Linked DNA regions of Homo sapiens: regions 2 and 3 are each linked to region 1. The links come from fine-mapping of genetic effects on gene expression. A gene starts in region 1. Each other region holds a variant in brackets. All regions are shown on one strand. Distances are from middle to middle. Region 1 holds the start of ALKBH3 (alkB homolog 3, alpha-ketoglutarate dependent dioxygenase). Region 2 overlaps ALKBH3 (alkB homolog 3, alpha-ketoglutarate dependent dioxygenase). Region 3 has its middle 21 kb from the start of ALKBH3.

Evidence for each region. PIP is the estimated chance that this variant, and not a neighbour inherited with it, causes the effect.
Region 2: its variant is the best candidate, but not a certain one, in a credible set for the expression of ALKBH3 in cerebellum (GTEx, PIP 0.82).
Region 3: its variant is the best candidate, but not a certain one, in a credible set for the expression of ALKBH3 in whole blood (TOPMed, PIP 0.66).

The regions. Positions count from the first base shown.
Region 1 is chr11:43,877,402-43,884,195 of GRCh38, reverse strand. It overlaps ALKBH3 (alkB homolog 3, alpha-ketoglutarate dependent dioxygenase), which reads right to left and starts at 3,365. Exons shown (of 10, transcript NM_139178.4): 1 at 3,017-3,365; 2 at 1,465-1,613; 3 at 1,008-1,111; 4 at 179-213. The coding sequence starts at 1,543. LOC105376644 (a long non-coding RNA gene) reads left to right here and starts at 3,459. Exons shown (of 3, transcript XR_001748200.2): 1 at 3,459-3,514; 2 at 6,120-6,213. RefSeq lists an enhancer at 3,380-3,579.
Region 2 is chr11:43,909,629-43,916,422 of GRCh38, reverse strand. The region is part of intron 8 of ALKBH3 (alkB homolog 3, alpha-ketoglutarate dependent dioxygenase); the gene reads right to left. ALKBH3-AS1 (ALKBH3 antisense RNA 1) reads left to right here. Exons shown (of 6, transcript NR_038907.1): 5 at 3,939-4,160; 6 at 5,910-6,794. Among named protein-coding and RNA genes, the nearest start is that of ALKBH3-AS1, 7.9 kb to the left of the region's middle. The variant G/A (reference allele first, on the strand shown) is at 3,381.
Region 3 is chr11:43,857,081-43,862,846 of GRCh38, reverse strand. No RefSeq gene overlaps it. Among named protein-coding and RNA genes, the nearest start is that of ALKBH3, 21 kb to the left of the region's middle. The variant C/T (reference allele first, on the strand shown) is at 3,796.

The sequences.
Region 1 (6,794 bases):
ATTCAGAAAGTCTTCTCAAAAGATCAAGTTTAAAGACATTTGAGATGGGAATATCCCAGACTACAGTTAAGACACTTATTGGGCCATTCTCTTCCAGATAGAAAAAACAGTGAGGAAAGATTCCAGGCTCTTCATTTCACTGTGGGCAACAATTACAGGAAGACAGCAAATTACTTACTCAATCACTCGTGGCTCAGGAGCTCTACGTACTACCTGCAAGGAAATAGGCGGATCTTACTTCTGGGATGTTCTTAATCCTCAAGGATACTGACTTACCATATCTTCCCATTTCTGGTCAAAATAAAGTTAAAAACTATCTCTTTTCTATTCCAACTTCTCACTAACCCACTAGAGACCCTTGTCTCCACTCTTCTTAAAACTACTTCACATTTGCTAGTAGACAGTAAAAGAAGATACAATTATTAATAGAATAAATTTTCCTAGCAGCCAGCAGCTCTGGAAAAATCTTGACAAGATTTTTTAAAATAGAAAATATGCTATAAAATAAGGAGTTTTAATAATTATTTATAGGGTTGTTACTATGGCAAGAAACCCAACTTTTTAACTTTTCCACATTATTAAAAAGTAAATCTTCACTGTTTCCTACATTTTTCCTCATGGGAAAAAAGGGCTAAAAATCAGGCATTTTATTGTAAAAACTGAAATTTTAATCCAATTCCAAAGATGGTGAAGTGCAATAGCACTGAAGACAGCACAGTTTTAGGACTGCTGGAGCTCAAATAACCAATGCAAGCAAGCTCTCATTATGGTGTAACCTCCTTGCCAAAAATACGGGAATAACATGTGACCATAAACTGGGAGCAGACTACGAAGAATCCCCAGACATAGAAAGGAACTGAAATATTTCTCATTTCATTATTATTATAGTTCTTCTGCTCTGCTATTAGTGAATTTATTCAGTCATTATTTATTTGAGTGTCTACTGTGTGAATATCACTTTTCTAAGCAAATTTTTATCACTATTGAAGAAAAAACCATGAATTTACCTGCTGAGGTTCTTTGAACACAAACTCTCTGTCAGAGAGATGATGCTCTTTGTTCTTCCAGGTCTGGCCAGGCTTCTGGTGGAGATGGCTCTTAGCAGTGGTAGCTGAAGCAAGAGAGGGGACAGCCTCAAACCAGGGGAAAGTCTGTTCTCAGCACCTTCTACTGAGCAAGGGCCAATAAAGCCCACTTGGAGATGATCTCTATGACATGTAGAAACTAACTGGTAAAGTCAACAGAAGATACTGAAAGGTTTGAGGGTGTGGACTAAATATGAGGAACATTAAAGACCCACCCTTAGCTCACCATCAACAAAATCGGACAAAATATCAGCCACATTTTAAACAATTCCTTGACGTCAATTGAAATGGAAGTCCATTATAAACCAAAAGGATATAAATAAAAGAGAATGAGAGTTGTCCATATCCACACACACACAAAATCCCTACAGATTCTTGCCTGGCTGAGCAATGGCCTGGCTTTTAACAGGGGCAGCCCAGGCTCCCTGAACTCGGGCTCGCCGTCTTTTTTCCTCCATGTTGACCAAAAAGGCTTCTGCTCCGAGCTTTCAGAAGATTTTGTTCCTGTTTCAAACTACTCCATGGTATCTGTTTATTAAAACAAAACAAAACAGTGCTTTTAGTTAGGATTGTGAACAATTACTCCTAAGGCATAATTAATTTCAGGCAGAAGACTCTCAATGGCAATAGAGCTTCCATGTAAAATCAGTTTATGTCATCACAACATTTCATTCAAGAAGCCTAGTCATTTGGGGCTGCTGGCTTTAGCATTCACCTTTTGTAATCTTACCATAGTACTTTTGTTTCTTTCACAAGAAAGTGCATTTTAAGAAATTCTAAAATTAGGACCTATTATAAACCACATTCCTCTTAATAGTCCCCAAGAGTAGAATATAAGGAAACTGTACTATTCCCATTTTCACCTACATGGACATTGAGAAATCGGCTAAGACTGTTTCCAAGCATATATTCCATTATCACTGGCTGCATCAAACTTCCCTGGAAGTTTGTTCAAAATACCTATGGCCCACCTTCAGAAAATCTGATTTAGGATGGATACAGGTATTTGTCTTTATAACAAGCAGTGTAAGATTTGACACAATGCAGGTATGTATGTGGACGGTAAAGTTCAATGATGCACCCAAAGCCACTCAGGAAATCAACAACAGACAGATTAACATTCAACTTATATTAAACTCCTGTCTCCAGCTAACGGATAAATCCACCTCATAATGGCTAATAATACTAATTTGACAGTTGTACCAGTAAAAGCTTAGCCTACAGCAAATGCAGAAGCACGTACAGCTACCAAAACAACAAGGAAATTCAAGCCACATGTTCCACATCTGTAATCTATTTCTTTATGCTTCTACCTAAGAAAGCTTCACACCTCAAGTTCTCAAAGGTAAAAGCTCGTTTTATATTAATAGCTTGCTTAGACTATAGATTCCCAGGTCCCATCTCCCACCTCTTCTGATTCAGTAGAGCTGAGCCAGGCCCAGGAATCTGTGTGTTTAACAAGTTCCCCCAGATGATAAGCATGTAATTCATTTCATTTAATAGGTGGAGAGACGCAGAGGCTGCCATCTGCCCAGAAGAGTTAATGACAATCAAATACCAATTCTCCAATCCCAGGAGCTCCCGTTTGACATGTTCTCTCAATTGAGGCCCTAAAAGCGTAACACAATTACCTACAGTCCCCGCAGAGGATACGACTTGCTCACCTTCTTGCTCCATTCACTGGGGAGCCATATGTTATTTGCCAGGGAACAATTGTTGAAAATAGATTCCAGAGCCCCATCCCAGATCTACTCAATTTGTAGAGTCCCAGAATTTGTTAACTAACGCCACCCTCAACCCAGGAATTCTTAATGCACATAAAGCTTGAGAACCAGTGCTGTAAAATACAAGGACTCTGGCGCCAGCCAGAACTCGCTTTGAATCCAGATCTGTCACTTCCCAGCTGCATGGCCCATGGCAAATGACTTCACCTTTCTGAGCCCCAGTTTTTCCTCAGTAAACAGGGCAGTCACTTTCCGCACGGTTGAGGTGCAGACTAAGCGAGCTCCGCAGGTGGAAGAGCTTGGTCGTGGATAAGGGCACTTCCTTTTCCTAATTTAGATCCTTCTCTTTAAGGAGGCCTAGAATGAGGCCCCGGAGGTCGCCCAGGAAGAGACTTCAGGGGTGGTACTCGCACCCCCAGCCCCGCGCACCCAGCAGTAAGTCAGGAAGGCGCACTTGCGGGCGGAGCCGGGCGCGCCCGTGCAAACCCGGTAGGACTTGGGGCAGCCCTCGCAGCCCCTGACCCACTCCGCAGTCTGTGATCGGAACCTTAAGAGTGAAGCACCGACTCCAGCAACTCCCAATCACAGGCCGCGGCATCAGGCACTTCCTCTCGACGTTACGCAGCGCCGCCACTACTTCCGGTGCGCAGTCCTCAGTCCGGGTAGTCCCACATCCCCCGCGCCTGGAGGGCCTAATCACCGAAGGTGCTGATGAGGGGATATGTGTTGCAGCGGACAGGGATTGAGAGTGCAGGGGAGCGGTGTGAAGGGGTCGGGGTTTGGCAAAGGTGGAAGTGAAGGCGTGTCTCCTACGTGAGTTCCTCGAAACTGGAGATGTCCAAGCATCGGCATCTTTGTGGCAGAAAGAGTGACCGGGTCCCTGTGGGACTAGATAAAGGGAGAGGAGTTTGGGGGACCTGGTTATAATGTGTTAGGCAAAAGGATTTGCATTTTATCCTAAAAACCACGGAGAGCCTGAAATGAGCCTCCTTTGTGTTCCTATTGCAGCCTGTGCACACCTCCGAACACAGCATTTACAGCAGGGCGTAGGACCACGCCTTAATTCACCTTGGCTCTCTCCAGTGCTAAGCAAATTTGCTTGAGTGAACAGACCTACATTTTGGCCCAGACACCACCACTTACTAGTTGTATAATCTAGGGCAAGTACTCTGCCTCTTTTTAAAATGGGTATCGCTCTTTTTGGGAGGATTAAGTGAGATAATGCATTTAAAGAATATAGCACAATGCCTGGAACACAACAAAAACTCAAAAAATGAAAAAGAGCTCACCCCATTTGAGCTCATGAGAAACATCTTTAAAATGGTCATGTTAAACCATGTACTTTACAGTATGAAAATAGCAAAAGTAGCACTGAATTGACTGTTTTATGCAAGTCATTCTCTAAGATCCGCCAAAGTATAGTCACTGTGGAAATCTTTAAAATAAGCCTGATATGAGTGTTTACCTTCAGGAAGCTCATTATAGGTACACCTCATCAATGTGTACCTATATTGTTGCTACTATCAAATCCATTTTCACAGCACTCATTATTATTTGTTATACTTTGTGACACTGAAGGAAAAAAATGATTTATCCTAGACCTGAAAGGAGAGAAAATGCTAAGGCCACACTACAGTTTTTTTCCCCCATCAACTAATTTGTCAATGTCTGCTTCTGGCTCAGGAACTTTGGCTGTATCTTCTAAAATATGTTATTTCTTTCTTTTCAATGATTATAGTTTTGGAACAGGAACAAAGAAGTCTGGATTGAGGAGTTCCTAAAAGTAGTGATTGACACCTCTTCAGCCTCTACGTAGTGTATTTCTCAAAGATCAATCCATGATTTACTTGCATCTGAAATTACTGCTTTTTTTTTGTTTAACAGAATCACCTGCGTTTTTAACAAGCACCCAAGTGATTCTGGTGCACAAAAATTTTGAAAACCTCTAGGACATATGTAGGATGACAAATTGTTCTGGTTTGTATGGGCCTGAGGAGTTTCCCAAGACACAGGACTTTAAGTGCTAAAGCCAGGACAGTCCTGGGCAAACTGAGATGGTTGGTTACCCTAGACGATGCGAGTATATAGTATTAGATGTTCTTAATGGTCTTGGCATCCTCATTAGGGTCTTGACTTTCTTATTTCTATTTGAAGTGTTTGAGTTTTTATCAGGAGGTGGTGGTAGAGACCATGGGAGAAGGAATGAAGGCGAAGTGTGTTGCCAATTATCAACCTATTGAGTCTCCATTCCAAACCCACCCTTCACTACCCTGTTTGCAATATTGGAAGGTTTCTCCCTTGCCTTTTGGTTCAATGGACAGTGAGCTTCATCAGTGGAGGGTACTGGAGGAACTTTAGAGGAGGAAGGGGCTCTTTTTTCTGGTTCCAGTGTGCTCCTCTCAGCTGGCTCTTTAGTGCACAGTGGCCCACAGTGTTTGACTACTCCCTGTGGGCTGAATTACCAGGTTAGTTTCTCTTCTGAAAGTTAAGGCATCAATTGGGAAGGAATGGAATCCCAAAATTTGAAATAAGCACTCTGCTTAGACCCAGATAACTGACAGTCTTGAACACCCATGGCACCCTGAGCCTTCCTTGGCAGTGGAAGTAGCTTGTCCTCCTAAGTCTGAGGAGACTAGTCATTCTTTGCTTGAAGACACTGCTAAGCCCTCAGCTGGGGCAGATGACTTCAAAAGGGAAGCTCATTCTCTACAAGACCCAGCAGAATTTACTTCCCCTTCTTCTGCCTCATTGCCACTAGACCCTAACTAGGTTCAAACCTCATTAATGCTCCAGGTAGGCTGCTACACACTATGATCTAGGATAAAACAGCTTGCACGCTGAAAGAACTATACTAATTACACGTACTTTGCTAATGTATGGAATGTGTGGAAGTGGATTCTAACTGTTTTAAACTAAGGAGGGCAGTATATAGTACTATATCAGGCCAATTATATGGAGGCATTTACTAGAGTGCATTTACAGACATTGTGTTGACTCATGCAACTGGAAATGACTCTAACAGCTTATTTGGTGGATTTATTGAAGATTTAACTCAACAGTAGTCTATGGTTAATCCTACTGAGATGCCAAGGCACGATGTAGAGGCGGGAACCCAAAGACTGAGAAGGGTAGAAATGTTGGACTGAATTTATCAAATGTGACCCTGACCCACGTGCAATAGACACAAACACAAAAACTATATCCTACAACAAGATCCAGAAGATGCTCCTTTTTCTAAAGCATTGAGAAATACTTTAGACAAGGGAGCACTTGCATCCTTGGAAAGCTCTGTGGTTGCTCTCCTTTGCAGGCCAGGTGTGATCATGGAAGATGCCACCATTGAGTTGGGTCCCCTGGTTTTACTGGAGATGATGAGGCCAAGTGGCAGCACTTAATTATTAAAGGTAAGGACATTGATCCAATACAGAAGCCAGGACATACCAGTAATCAGAATATGTTGGTCTATAAGGATCTTTGGTAGTGGCCATGGTGTCCCTAGGAATGAAACAGATGGGCAGCCTACTAGAGAATTGTTTGATCTATCTAACAGAAAAAAAGTCTATGTCTAGTAGCCAAAAACCTTACCTGGCCACACTGGATAGACATATCTCTCACCTAGTTTCCAGACAAGTCATATCACGACCCCAAACCTCTTGATTGACAGGGAAGCCACATCTCTTGGAGGAAGGACCCTGCACCATTGTCACAAGTATATACTGTAAATTTTCCTCCAAGTCTTTTTTTTGAGACAGAGTCTCGCTCTATCACCCAAGCTGAGAGCAGTGGCGTGGTCTCGGCTCACTACCAGCTCCGCCTCCTGGATTCATGCCATTCTCCTGCCTCAGCCTCCCGAGTAGCTGCCTGCCACCACGCTCGGCTAATTTTTTGTATTTTTAGTAGAGATGGGATTTCACCATGTTAGCCAGGATGGTCTCGATCTGACCTTGTGATCCACCCACCTCGGCCTCCCAAAGTGCTGAGATTA
Region 2 (6,794 bases), 32 kb before region 1:
CCTACGAGTACATGGAAAAAGCGAAAAACATGTATTTTTATATTAATGCTGATCAACATTCTCATTCCTCCAACCGCAGCCAGTTCATTTGAAGGCTTAATTATGCTTTTCTAAAGCTTCTCACAACTCTTACCTCCACCTCACCAACATATCCTATTCAGTTTCCTTTAAGAAAATGCTATTTGGGGTGAAAAAATCTGGATGTATTTACTGTTATGTCATTATTAACCATCCAACAGATGGGAAACCTAAACATTTTTCTTTCCATTGGAAAGGTAATTCATACTGTATGAGATTTGGAGTTTTCTTAAAATCATCCCTTTCTTGTCCTAAAAGAATGTCTTAGAAATTACAAACAATCATCAATGCTTTAAAATCATCATACAGGTTTTCCTTCTAGAATATAAAAAGTAACATAAGTTTACTAAAGTAAATGATGCACTTGTAATTATTTATTCAACCTCTGCTCTTATAAACTCCATGAGGGAAAGTTTATGTGGTCTTCCTGTTAAGAAACATTCTCAGTGCCTATCACACATATGAATAAATATGTACTGAATGACTGAGGAAGAGTACACAGAAAATGTAGAAAATCGCCTGTAATCCTATCATCCAGAGTTTATACAACATACACACAGAGTCTTCCAGATATACAATCGTGTGTACTCCATTTTTAATATTTTATTGAGCATTTTTCTATATCTTTAAATATACATTTCAAAAATATGGTTATAGAATATTCCTTTGTATGAACATATCCTTCCTTTAAACTCACAAATACCTTTTGACCACCTGTATATATCAGGCATTATGCTAGTACTAAGGATGGAGCAGTAAGGAGCACATGGTTGGAGATTGATTTTCATACACCAGTATTTTTTTTTAAAAAGAGGGAAAATAAATAAAAAGCTGCTGCAAGCAGATTTTTGGGCAAAACATTTCTGCATATATTTCTAGGATATATTCTTAAAAAATGGAATTACTGGAGCCAAGTGTATGAACTTTAAGGCACTTGATTTATATTACCAAACTGCTTTCTTGAGAAGGCTGCAGCAATCTATAATCTCACCAGGAAAACATGACAGTACCTATCTTCTGGCTGAACATTATCAACTGACAGTAACGAAAAACAATTAGGGGAGAAATGACAACTCATTCAAACTTAGAGATCTTGGATTACAAGCCAAGTTCTTTTTTTTTTTTTTTTCTTTTTTTGAGACAGAGTCTCACTCTGTCACCCAGGCTGGAGTGCAGTGGTGTGATCTCGGCTCACTGCAACCTCCACCTCCTGGGTTCAAGCGATTCTTGTGCCTCAGCCTCCCGAGTAGCTGGGATTACAGGTGCCTGCCACCATGCCTGGCTAATTTTTTTTTATTTTTAGTAGAGATAGGGTTTCACCATGTTGGCCAGGCTGGTCTTGAACTCCTGGGCTCAAGTGATCCACCTGCCTTGGCCTCCCAAAGTGCTGGGATTACAGGTGTGAGCCACCACACCCAGCCCAAGTTCAACTTTTTTTTTTTCATTCTGTTTGCTGTTTGTGTTTCTTCTGCTGTGAACACTCTCTGTTCATGTCCTTTGTCCATTGTTCTATGGGGGTGTTAACACTGTTTTCTTATTGATCTACAACCACAGATATTAAGGCATTTGTTTGTCATACTTTTTGCAAATGCTTTTCTCATTTGCTATTTGCCTTTTAACTGTACTTATGGTATTTAACATGGAATAGCTCAAAAATTTTAGAGTCAACTCTACTGACCTTTCTTTGGCTCGTCTTCATGATTTTTATGCTTAGAAAGTCTTTTCCCATCCTGAGGAAAGTTAAATATACAACTGTATTTCCTTTTAGTTTTTTTTTTAAGAGTTTACATTTTTTAGATTTAACTCTTTAATCTACATGGAGTTTGTTTTTTGGTGGTGGTTGGGTTATTCTTTTTTTTCCATGCTTCTTTTTATAACAGTTTCCAGGTACTTAAACCAAAGCATCCTGCCAGACTTCTTCCACAAGATCTACGATGGCATGTGCTCAGGTGCCAGGCACATCAGGCACTCTATATCCGTTATTGCTAATCCTCACTACAACCTTGTAAGGGAGGCAAGGAAGGTGATATTATCCATTTTATCATAAGCAAAGGGAGCTGGAGGGAAAATATTTCTCTAAGGCAAAAGCTAGCAGGAGGGCAGGCTAGCATTTGAATGTAGATTGGCCCGGCTCTAAAGCCCTATTCTTTCCACTATACTCTGCTCTCCAAGGTAAGCTCTATTCCTTCTGAAATCCTAATATTTCCTGTCCTGATTATATGGCACCCTGACTATACTGTAGGGGTCACAAACACCAGCAAGTAGCATAAGTGAGAGGTGTGGGCTGGGTGCAGCACAGGGAGGAGAGGGACCCATGCAGAACCAGGGGCCTGCAGAAAGGTGGTGGCTGCTCTGCCAATGAGCCATTTCAGATCACTGTTCCCCCAGTGCTGCCCCCTCTTCTGGGTTTTCCAGGGAAGCTGACAAGTGGGATTTTTATGTGAAATTTCCTGAGTTATAAATTTTCGCAATTAATTCAGTGTCTTTAAAAACACTGGGCAATTTAAACAAGTCTGAGGGCCAGATTCAGCTCCAGGGTTGCCCAGCTATGCTGCTGATAGGTCCATGACATGACTGCCTTCTTTGATTCCCTTGTCAGTCACCTTAGCAGACTTGTAAGCGTCTAAGACCGTTGTCATCTGATGTGCTTCTTGCATCCCCTTTGCCATTCCATGCAGTAGTGCCTGAGAGATGCTCAGGACACAAGTGCTACTTCATCTTCAAATATCATCTTCCTTTACTGAATTAAATCTAGAGGTAGAAACTGTGGGGAAATATCAAATACACGTACAATTGCTTTTAGTTAGCAACTGATTGTAGCATAGGCTCCTCCAAGGTTTCAAGCAATGGACAGAGTTTTAAATTATAGTGGATTTGTTTAATTTATTATTTGATAGTAATCTGAATAAATCTTAGAGGCCATTATCACTTAAATAATAGTATATCTAGGTCTTTCAAATTAAAATTATACCTGAATAATGGAGGGTGGAGGACGGGACGGGGGTGAGGACGGAAAAACTACCTATCGGGTACTATGCTTATTAGCCGGGTGATGAAATAATCTGTATACCAAACCCCCGTGACAGACAAGTTACCTATATAACAAACCTGCAAATATACCTAACCTAAAACAAAAATTAAAAAAAAATTAGACCTGAATGAAGCTGTCTGTACACATGAAGTATATTTGTGTACCATGACCAAGTTTGTCGCCTGTACTTGTTTTTTTTTTTTTTTTAACAACTGGAAATTATTTACTGTATCTCATTTATGTCTGTCTATCATAAAGAATTGATCAATAT[G/A]TAAATATGTGATTTGAACCATGGTTGACTTTTTGAACCATGGTTGACTTATGAGTGTTGCTACAACATTTTAGAAAACATAGCCTGTTCCATGTATTAACCAAGGCCCAGGAGAGCCAGTAGGCTTGTGCTTTGTGTAGAGCTGGGAGAGGCCATCCATCCTGTCTCTCAGTGGACAATGTACTTTCCTGATAAGGAAGGGAAGCACAATGGAAATACACCTCAACTGTTTTATTGCAGTAATTTTTTTTGTATCTGAAACTGTATTGTTTAATATATTAAGATTTTAAAAAATAAATGCCATGATTTTAAAAAATTATCACATTCTTCATCTCACCCCTAACTCAATCAGAAAAAGTCATTCAAAGCAAAATATGCTTCCAAATTACTGATCTCAGATAACAGTGAGGCAGTTGGTTTTCCACATCATCTCTGATTCCTTAGATGAGCAAAATAGAAAAACCTCCATCTCTGTACTAAGAAGACACTTATAAAAACAAAACACAAATGAGCAGAAAGGACAAGGTAGAAGCCTGCTACCTGTTTCTTGTTTTACAGGTTCACAGGAAGCACCTGGCACACAGTAACTATTATTAATTTCTGCACTGGAGGCATCAGGAAAGCCTTCACGCTATAGGGGGCCCTTTTAAGTTAAGAAGTTGGAGAGCAAGCCTCGGGGAAAGCAAAGAGATAACTTAGTAGAATGGAGCAACCATACGGGAACAGTGAGAGTCCATGGATCTCCCTGGGCTAAGATCATGTATGGATTTGGCAATCTGGGTAAGGAGTTTCTATTTTATCCTTTGTTCCAACAGAAGCAAATTAAGATTTTTCAGGTGGAAAACAAAGTGATGAAAGCAGTGAGCTCAACCTTTGAGGCTCTATGCTCCCTTCTTGTTTTTTGTTTGTTTGTTTGTTTTGAGAAGGAGTCTCACTCTGTGGCCCAGGCTGGAGTGCAGTGGTGCGATCTCGACTCACTGCAACCTCTGCCTCCCAGGTTCAAGCGATTCTTCTGCCTCAGCCTCCTAAGTAGCTGGCATTACAGGCGCGCACCACCACGCCTGCCTATTTTTTTTGTATTTTTAGTAGAGACGGGGTTTCACCATGTTGGTCAGGCTGGTCTCGAACTCCCGACCTTGTGATCCGCCCACCTCAGCCTCCCAAAGTGCTGGGATTACAGGCATGAGCCACGGCGCCTGGCCGCTCCCTTTTTTATTCTCTTTCTCTGAATGATAATGTACAATTCCACAGTTTTACATATGGTCTATATTATTAGTTTTAATTCGATTCCACATTCAACAAATAGTTGTCTAAGCCATCTTGGGCAAGTAATTTAACACTGAGTCTCAGTCATCTCATCTGTACAATGGAAATAATAATGGCATCAACTATATAAAATTATCAGAGAATTCAATAAAGAAGTTAGAGCAGAGCCAGGCACAGTCAGCACTATACACTTGTTATTTATTATTAGCGTTTTACTATTGCGGTTATTCCAAAATTCCCAAATGACATCTCCAGCCAGGCCTGTTGTCTGAACTCCAGACTTACACAGTCGACTGCCTACTTAACATTTGGAAGCCTCAGGCACCTCAGATTTTGCACGTAGAAGAAGGAACTCCTCCAGCAGGGACAAAATCAAATGCAGAAATCCCAGCTTCTCTTCCACCTGAGTAAACAGCAACTCCACTCACCACTGCTCAAGTCAGACACCTGGGAGTCTGGATCCTTACCCCCACATCTAACATATTACTGGCAAGTTCTGTTGATTCATCCTCAGAAATATACCTCAAACCCATTAACTTCTCTTCATCCCCAATGCCACCTTAGTCCAAGCTAGCAGTCTCCCACTGCGATGACTACAACCACCTACTCTTTTAGTCTCCTACTCTTGCCTCTTCCCAAATTATTCTTCACACAGCAGCCACAGTGATCTTCTAAAATAAAAATTCAGAGCTCTAACCATGAGTTGTAACTATTTCTCTCTGTTTATTTGATTATAGTCTAGCTCCTGTAACCCCCATAAGGGCAGGGACTATGTTTGTCATGTTCACTGCTATATCCCCAGAGCTGAGCATAGTATAATACCTGACACATAGTAGGGGTTTAATTAATATTTGGAGAGGGGAGAATGAGAGAAGACAGTGAGAGAGAGGCAGGAAAGAACTGTTCCTGGAAATAATACCTGACATCTGGGTAATGGACAGAAGAGAGGGAGCAAAGATTGGAATTAAGGACATCAGGGTGAAAAAAAAAGTCATTTTAGTACTGTAGGCATGGGTTAAAAAGTGCCTGGGATAAAGATGGTCACTGTAAGAGAGATGGGTTCTTTAGATAGTTCAAGAAAGAATTCAGATGACTTGGGACTTGATAATATATGAGAAACAAAGGAACAAGGAAGAGCTGAAAATAACTTACGGTGTTAACCTGACCAAGAGAATGGTTAGGTTAACATGAACATAAATGAACTTACCAGCAAGTGTGGAGTTTTTCTGAAAGAACAATACGAATCTGATTTTATCATTACAGGGTGGAAGCCACATGTGCTGTTATTAAGTGGAAATGTCTCGTGAACATGTGGAAAGTGATGACTGGAACTTCAGATGAAAGTCAAAGCTGGAGATAGGAGATTCAGAAGTCACCCCACCAAAGAAGGAATGGTTAAAGCTATAAGAACTAATGAGATCCTATTTATTTGCTTATTCAATCAACATATGTAGAACTAAATGCTAAGAATGTAATGATAAATAAGACAGAAAGGGACCTTGCCCATATGGTATTTACAATCTACTGCCAGTTCATAATCTCCTAAAAAATAATGTAGAGAACAATAACAGAATCAAAGAAATCTTGAACGTCTATATTTAAGGGGTTGAATGTAAAAGAAAAGGCCTTAAAGGAGGCAGAAAAATAGCAATGAGAAAAGTTTGGGAATTCTAAAACAAGACAGTATTTCAGAGGAAGAAAACGCAGGTAATACATGGGCAAGTTTCACACACAGAGGTGATGCATCCTGGTGACCAATATTACAAGGAAGAGAGATGATGACTGAGGACAGGCTGGTGGACTTGATTTGAGGTCAACGGTATGAGGATAATTTCAGCAGAGTGGTGGGATGGAGCGAAACAGCAGGTGTGTCAATAATGAGTTAAGCTTTGAGAAAGGGGAGACTTCAGATGCAGACAACTCATTCCTGAATCTGTGCTTCAAAAACAAGAAAAAGCCCAAGATGTCAGGATATCTGCAGGGTCAAGCAAAGCATTTTTTTCACGATGGTAATAGGTAAAAGAGATTTCTCTAGCCCGCTGGTCTAAGGATCAGACAGAGGGTGGAGGTGCTTGATAAGGATGGTCATGGCATTTTTTGCAGACTGAAATGATATTTGAAAACTAAATGCTAGCCTGTGTTACAGCT
Region 3 (5,766 bases), 21 kb after region 1:
GCCGAGGTGGGTGGATCATTTGAGGTCAGGAGTTTGAGACCAGCCTGGCCAACATGGTGAAACCCCACCTCTACTAAAAAAAATACAAAAATTAGGCAGGCATGGTGGTGGGCGCTTGTTGTCCCAGCACTTGGGAGGCTGAGGCAGGAGAATCGCTTGAACCCAGGAGGCGGAGGTTGCAGTGAGCCAAGATTGCGCCACTGCACTCCAGCCTGGGTGACAGAGTAAGACACTGTCTCAAAACAAACAAACAAACAGAAAAACAGAATGAAGACTTGGCACTTGTAACTTGAGTCTCAGATAGATACAATGAGATAATGCCTGATAAATTTTCAGAAATGACAAAAGGCATGAATTCATAGATACAGGAAGCATACTGTAAACCAGGTAGAATAAATAAAGAGTTCCACACTTAGACACCTTGGCATGAAACTGAGGAACACCAAGTCAAAAGGTATTGCCAAAGAGGCCAGAGATATATCACCTACAACAAAAGGCACCATACTGATTTCTGAAAAACAACAATGGAAGCCAGAAGTCAGTAATATGATCCAGTATTTCATTAACTTTAAGATGCCATCAATGCTAAATCACACCACTATTTTATACAGCACCAGTAAAGAAAAAAAGTAATGTCAAATTATGATATGCACCAGAATATCTCAAATGTAGGAAATAAAGGTATACAAGGAACTTGATAAACAGGTGGTAATTTATTTTATACAAAAATGTGTGTATAAGATAATAAAAATGTCTAACTTATGGGGTTCTAAAAATCAGAGGTTAGGCTGGGCACGGTGGCTCACGCCTGTAATCCCAGCACTTGGGAGGCAGGATTACAGGCAGGTGAGGCGGGCGGATCACCTGAGGTCAGGAGTTTGAGACCAGCCTGGCCAACATGGCAAAACCCCGTCTCTACTAAAAGTACAACAAAGCCCAGCATGGTGGCACACATCTGTAATCCCAGCTACTCGGGAGGCTGAGGCAGCAGAATCGCTTGAACCCGGGAGGTGGAGGTTGCAGTGAGCCGAGATTGCGCCACTGCACTCCAGCCTCGGTGACAGAGCGAGACTCCATCTCAAAATAATAATAATAATAATAATAATAATAATAATAGTAATAATAATAATAAAATCAGAGGTTAGAATATTGGCCTACAATAGCATGTAAGTAGGGAAGGGGTTGATCAGACTTATGATGTTCCAAAGTCCATTATAAGTAAAGAACGGGTTATGATACCAGATAACTTTAGATTGTATTGAGTATGCATTGAAAAAGTTCAGGAGTAAACACAAGAAAAATATAAATAGAATGTAAAACTTTAAACCTAGTACAGAGGGAGAAATGGAATAATAACAATAATAAAACCAAACAGCCAATCAATAAGTAATGGAAAAAACGCATAAAAGAGAAACAAATAGTACAAAATAACATGATAGAAGTCTTCATGTTTTAAGAATTATAATAAATGTAAATGGAATAAAGTTGTCTACTAAAGGGTAGAGATGGCCAAATGAAAAGCCAAAATCCAGATTTATTTGACTTACAAGAGACAAAACTAAACCATCAACACGTAGGAGGTAAAAGGATTTAAAGATATACACTAAATACCAACCAAAGCTATATTGAGATAACAGAAAACAGATTTTTATTTGCTAAGGCAAAAAGCATTAGCAATAAGGAAGTCACTACATAACAAGAAGAGTTCAACTCACCAGGACAACACAAGAATTCCACACTTTATTCACTCAATAGAATGTATAAAGTTAAAACTGATAAAAGAGGGGAAATTGTCAAATCTACCATTACAGTAGGAGAATTCAAAATACCTTTATCAATTATTAATAGGTCAGACAAAAGTTAGTAAAGATATGAAAGATTTGAACAACACAATTAACAAGCAGTGCCACATATGTAGAAAACAATCAGAGGCCAGGTGCCTTGGCTTACGCCTGTAATCCCAACACTTCGGGAGGCCAAGGCCGGAGGATCATTTAAGCCCAGGAGTTCCAGACCAGCTTGGGCAACATACCCAGCTACTCAGGAGGCTGAGGTGGGAGGACTGCTTAAGCCCAGGATGTTGAGGCTGCAGTGAGCCAAGATCATGCCATCGTACATGCCTAGGGGACACAGTGAGACCAGTTTCCAAAAAAAAAAAGGAAACATAATTAGGAAGCACATGTGAAACACTTAAAAAACTGGCCATACTGTGGCTGGGTGCGGTGGTTCACGCCTGTACTCCCAGCACTTTGGGAGGCCGAGGCGGGCGAATCACGAGGTCAGGAGTTTGAAACCAGCCTGGCCAACATGGTGAAACCCCGTCTCTACTAAAAATATAAAAAATTAGCTGGGAGTAGTGGCGGACGCCTGTAATCCCAGCTACTCGGGAGGCTGAGGCAGGAGAATCGCTTGAACCCGGGAGGCGGAGGTTGCAGTGAGCTGAGATCGTGCCACTGCACTCCAGCCTGGCGACAGAGCAAGACCGTGTCTCAAAAAAAAAAAAAAAAGGAAAAAAAAGTGGCCACACCTGGACGTAAAACAAGTCTCAAAAATTTTCTAGCTAGGTGTGATGACTCATGCCTAGAATCCTAGCTACTTGGGAGGCTGAGGCAGGATTGCAGGAGGCCAGGTGTTCAAGACCAGCCTGGGCAACATACTGAGACCCCCATCTTTAAAAATAAAAATTATAAAGCCAGTGCCTATAGTCCTAGCTATTCAGGAGGCTGAAGAGGGAGGATCACTTGTAAGAGCCCAGGAGTTTGAGGCTGCAGTGAGCCATGGTCACGCCACTGCACTCCAGTCTGGGCAACAGAGAGAGACCCTGACACTAAACAAACAAACAAAACCTCTAATAGGTAATACAATTTACATTTGTGTTTCCTGGGGCTGCTGGAACAAATTTATCACAAACTCAGTGGTTTAAAACAACAGAAATTTATTCTCACAGTTCCCTGGAGACCAGAAGTCCAAAATGAGTGTTACTACACCAAAATCAAATTGTTGGTGGGATGCTTCATCCTCCAGAATTTCTAGGAGAGAATCTGTTCCTTGACCCTTCCTTTTTTTTTTTTTTTTTTTTTTTTTTTTTTTGTGGCTACTGATATTCCTTGGTTTGTGGCTGCATCACTCCAGTCCTCACCTTCATGATCACACTGCCTTCTCCTCTTCTGTCTGCAATCTCCCTGCCTCTGATTAAAGACACTTGTGATTGCATTTAGGACCTACCTAGATAATCCAAGAAAATCTCCCCATCTCAAGATCTCCAATTTAATCACATCTGCAAACACCTCATTTCCACGTAAGGTAACATAGGGTTCATGGATTAGGACCTGATGTCTTGGGGGCCATTATTCAGCCTACTACAACATATATTTATATACTTGTGCCTGGATGAGTTCTCAGTACTTTAAGTGTCTTAACTTCCTCTCAAACAATATATGACATAGGTGCTATTATTTCCATTTTTCAGATGGTAAAGCTGAGGCAGAGAAAGGCTATAAAAATTTGCCCAGGCTTTATCATACTCGCATGTTCTTTGACCACATGCAATTAGTTAGAACAAAAGCTATTTTTAAACTTTCTATTCTGAAATGATTCCAGATTTACAGTAAATCTGCAAAACAGTACAAAGTATCCATATACCTCCACATAGATTTTCCAAAGGTTAACATCTGACCCCATTTACTCTACCATTTTCTCTCTCTATAATTTTTCCTAAACCTTTTGTGATTCAGTTGCATATCAATATTCCGTTAACCCTAAACGCTCCAGTGTCTATTTCCTAAAAAACAAGGA[C/T]TTTTTCAAGGAACCATGACATTATTATCAAAATCAGGAAGTCACACTGATATAATGCTATTAATAATTTACAGACCTTACTCAAATTTTACCGAATGTCTCAAAAATGTCCGAAAGAACAAAAGTTTAAAAAATGCTTTCTTGACCAAGATCCAGTCCAGAAACACGTGCTGCAGGTACTTGTCACGTCACTTTAGTCTCCTTTAACTTGAAATTTTTGAGAAGTATAGGCTGGTAACTTTGTAGGATATTCCTCATTTTATCTTTTTCTGATATTTCTCTCTACTATGTTCATGTTATGCATTTTTGGCAGGAATATCACATAATTAATGTTGTGTCTTCAGCACATTTTATCAGGATTCACAAAATATAAAATTGTCTTATTAATAGTGATATTAACATTACAAAATTTTTTTGAAAAGGAAATACATTTATAAAACTCTTAAGTCTGTGCATTTAAAAATACTGTAAAATAATTAACAGGTCAAATAAATCATAATGTAAAGATATGAATGGAAAAGCAATAAAAATGTGTATATATACATGTTTGTATACATGCATACACTCAATCATGGGGTGAGGCAAAGGAGGTAATTCAAATAAACTCAGATACTTACTAAAAATAGAAAAAACCTTGAACATGAATGAGTTAAATGTCCAATTTATGAAATGAGAAAACAACAGAACAAACCATCAGAAAGCAGAACATAAAAGAGAAGGGCAGAGAGAATGAACAAAGCTAAGACTGGTTCTTTAAAAAAATAAAATAGACAAACTTCTGGTAAAACGGCCAAGGAAAAGAAAGTGAGAAGATACAAACAGTATCGGAAAAGGAAGTATGCATATCCAGGAGAGGTTTAGAAATAAGAAAATTCCTTAAGCTACTTTATGCTAATAAATTGTAAAATGGGTAAATGCTTAGATTTTTTTTCAAAATTGACTCAAGAAAAAAAAATAGAATTCCTGAATAGTCTAATTATAGTAGTTAAAGTCTTCCCACCAATAAATACCAGGGCCAGACAGCTTTATAAACTTTTAACAAACAGATCATTCCAATCTTTTGCAAATTCTTATGGAGAACAGGAAAAAAGGCAACACTTTCCAATTCATTTAATGGAGTTATAATCTTGACACCATAAACTGACCAAAAAAGTGTAAGAAAGGCAGACTGCAGGCCAATTTCATGTAGATGCAAGAATCCCAGGTAAAATACTTGAAACAAACTGATTTCAGTAGTGTATAAAGATAAGGAAATATAACCAAGAATGGAGAAGTGATTCTTGTCTACTCTAGTCTTTCTGTGTTCAATCCTTTTTTTTTTCTTTTCTTTCTTTTTTTTTCTTTTTGAGATGGTGTCTCACTCTGTCGCCTAGGTTGAAGTGCAGTGGCACAATCTCGGCTCACTGCAACCTCCGCTTCCCAGGTTCAAGGGATTCTCCCACCTCAGCCTCCTGAGTAGCTGGGACTACAGGTGTGCACCACTGAGCCCAGCTAATTTTTGTATTTTTTTTAGAGGCAGGGTTTCACCATGTTGGCCAGGCTGGTCTTGAACTCCTGACCTCATGATCAGCCGGCCTCAGCCTCCCCAAAGTGCTGGGATTACAGGCATGAGCCACTGCGCCTGGCCCGTCTGTGTTCAAATCTTATCTAGTATGCATTAGAACATAAAATCAAGTCAACATAAAGTTAAGTCTGAAATTTTTACTTGACTATTTTGAAGGTTTGGAGTATACTGTTTTCTCTTTTAACATAATTTTTCTTTTCATGTGCCTAGAAAAATACATTTTTACGTCATCACCTTCACCCTGGAGTGTCAAATACAAGTGGGTGCTTGCCAAGTTGAAGCAATCAAAGCCACAGCTCAGAAGTTTTGAAATTCTTAAGGGATTTTCTAGCCAGAATTACAACTGCTTTCTTTTTTTGAGACAGGGTCTTACTATGTCACTCAGACTGGAGTGCAGTAGTAGTTCA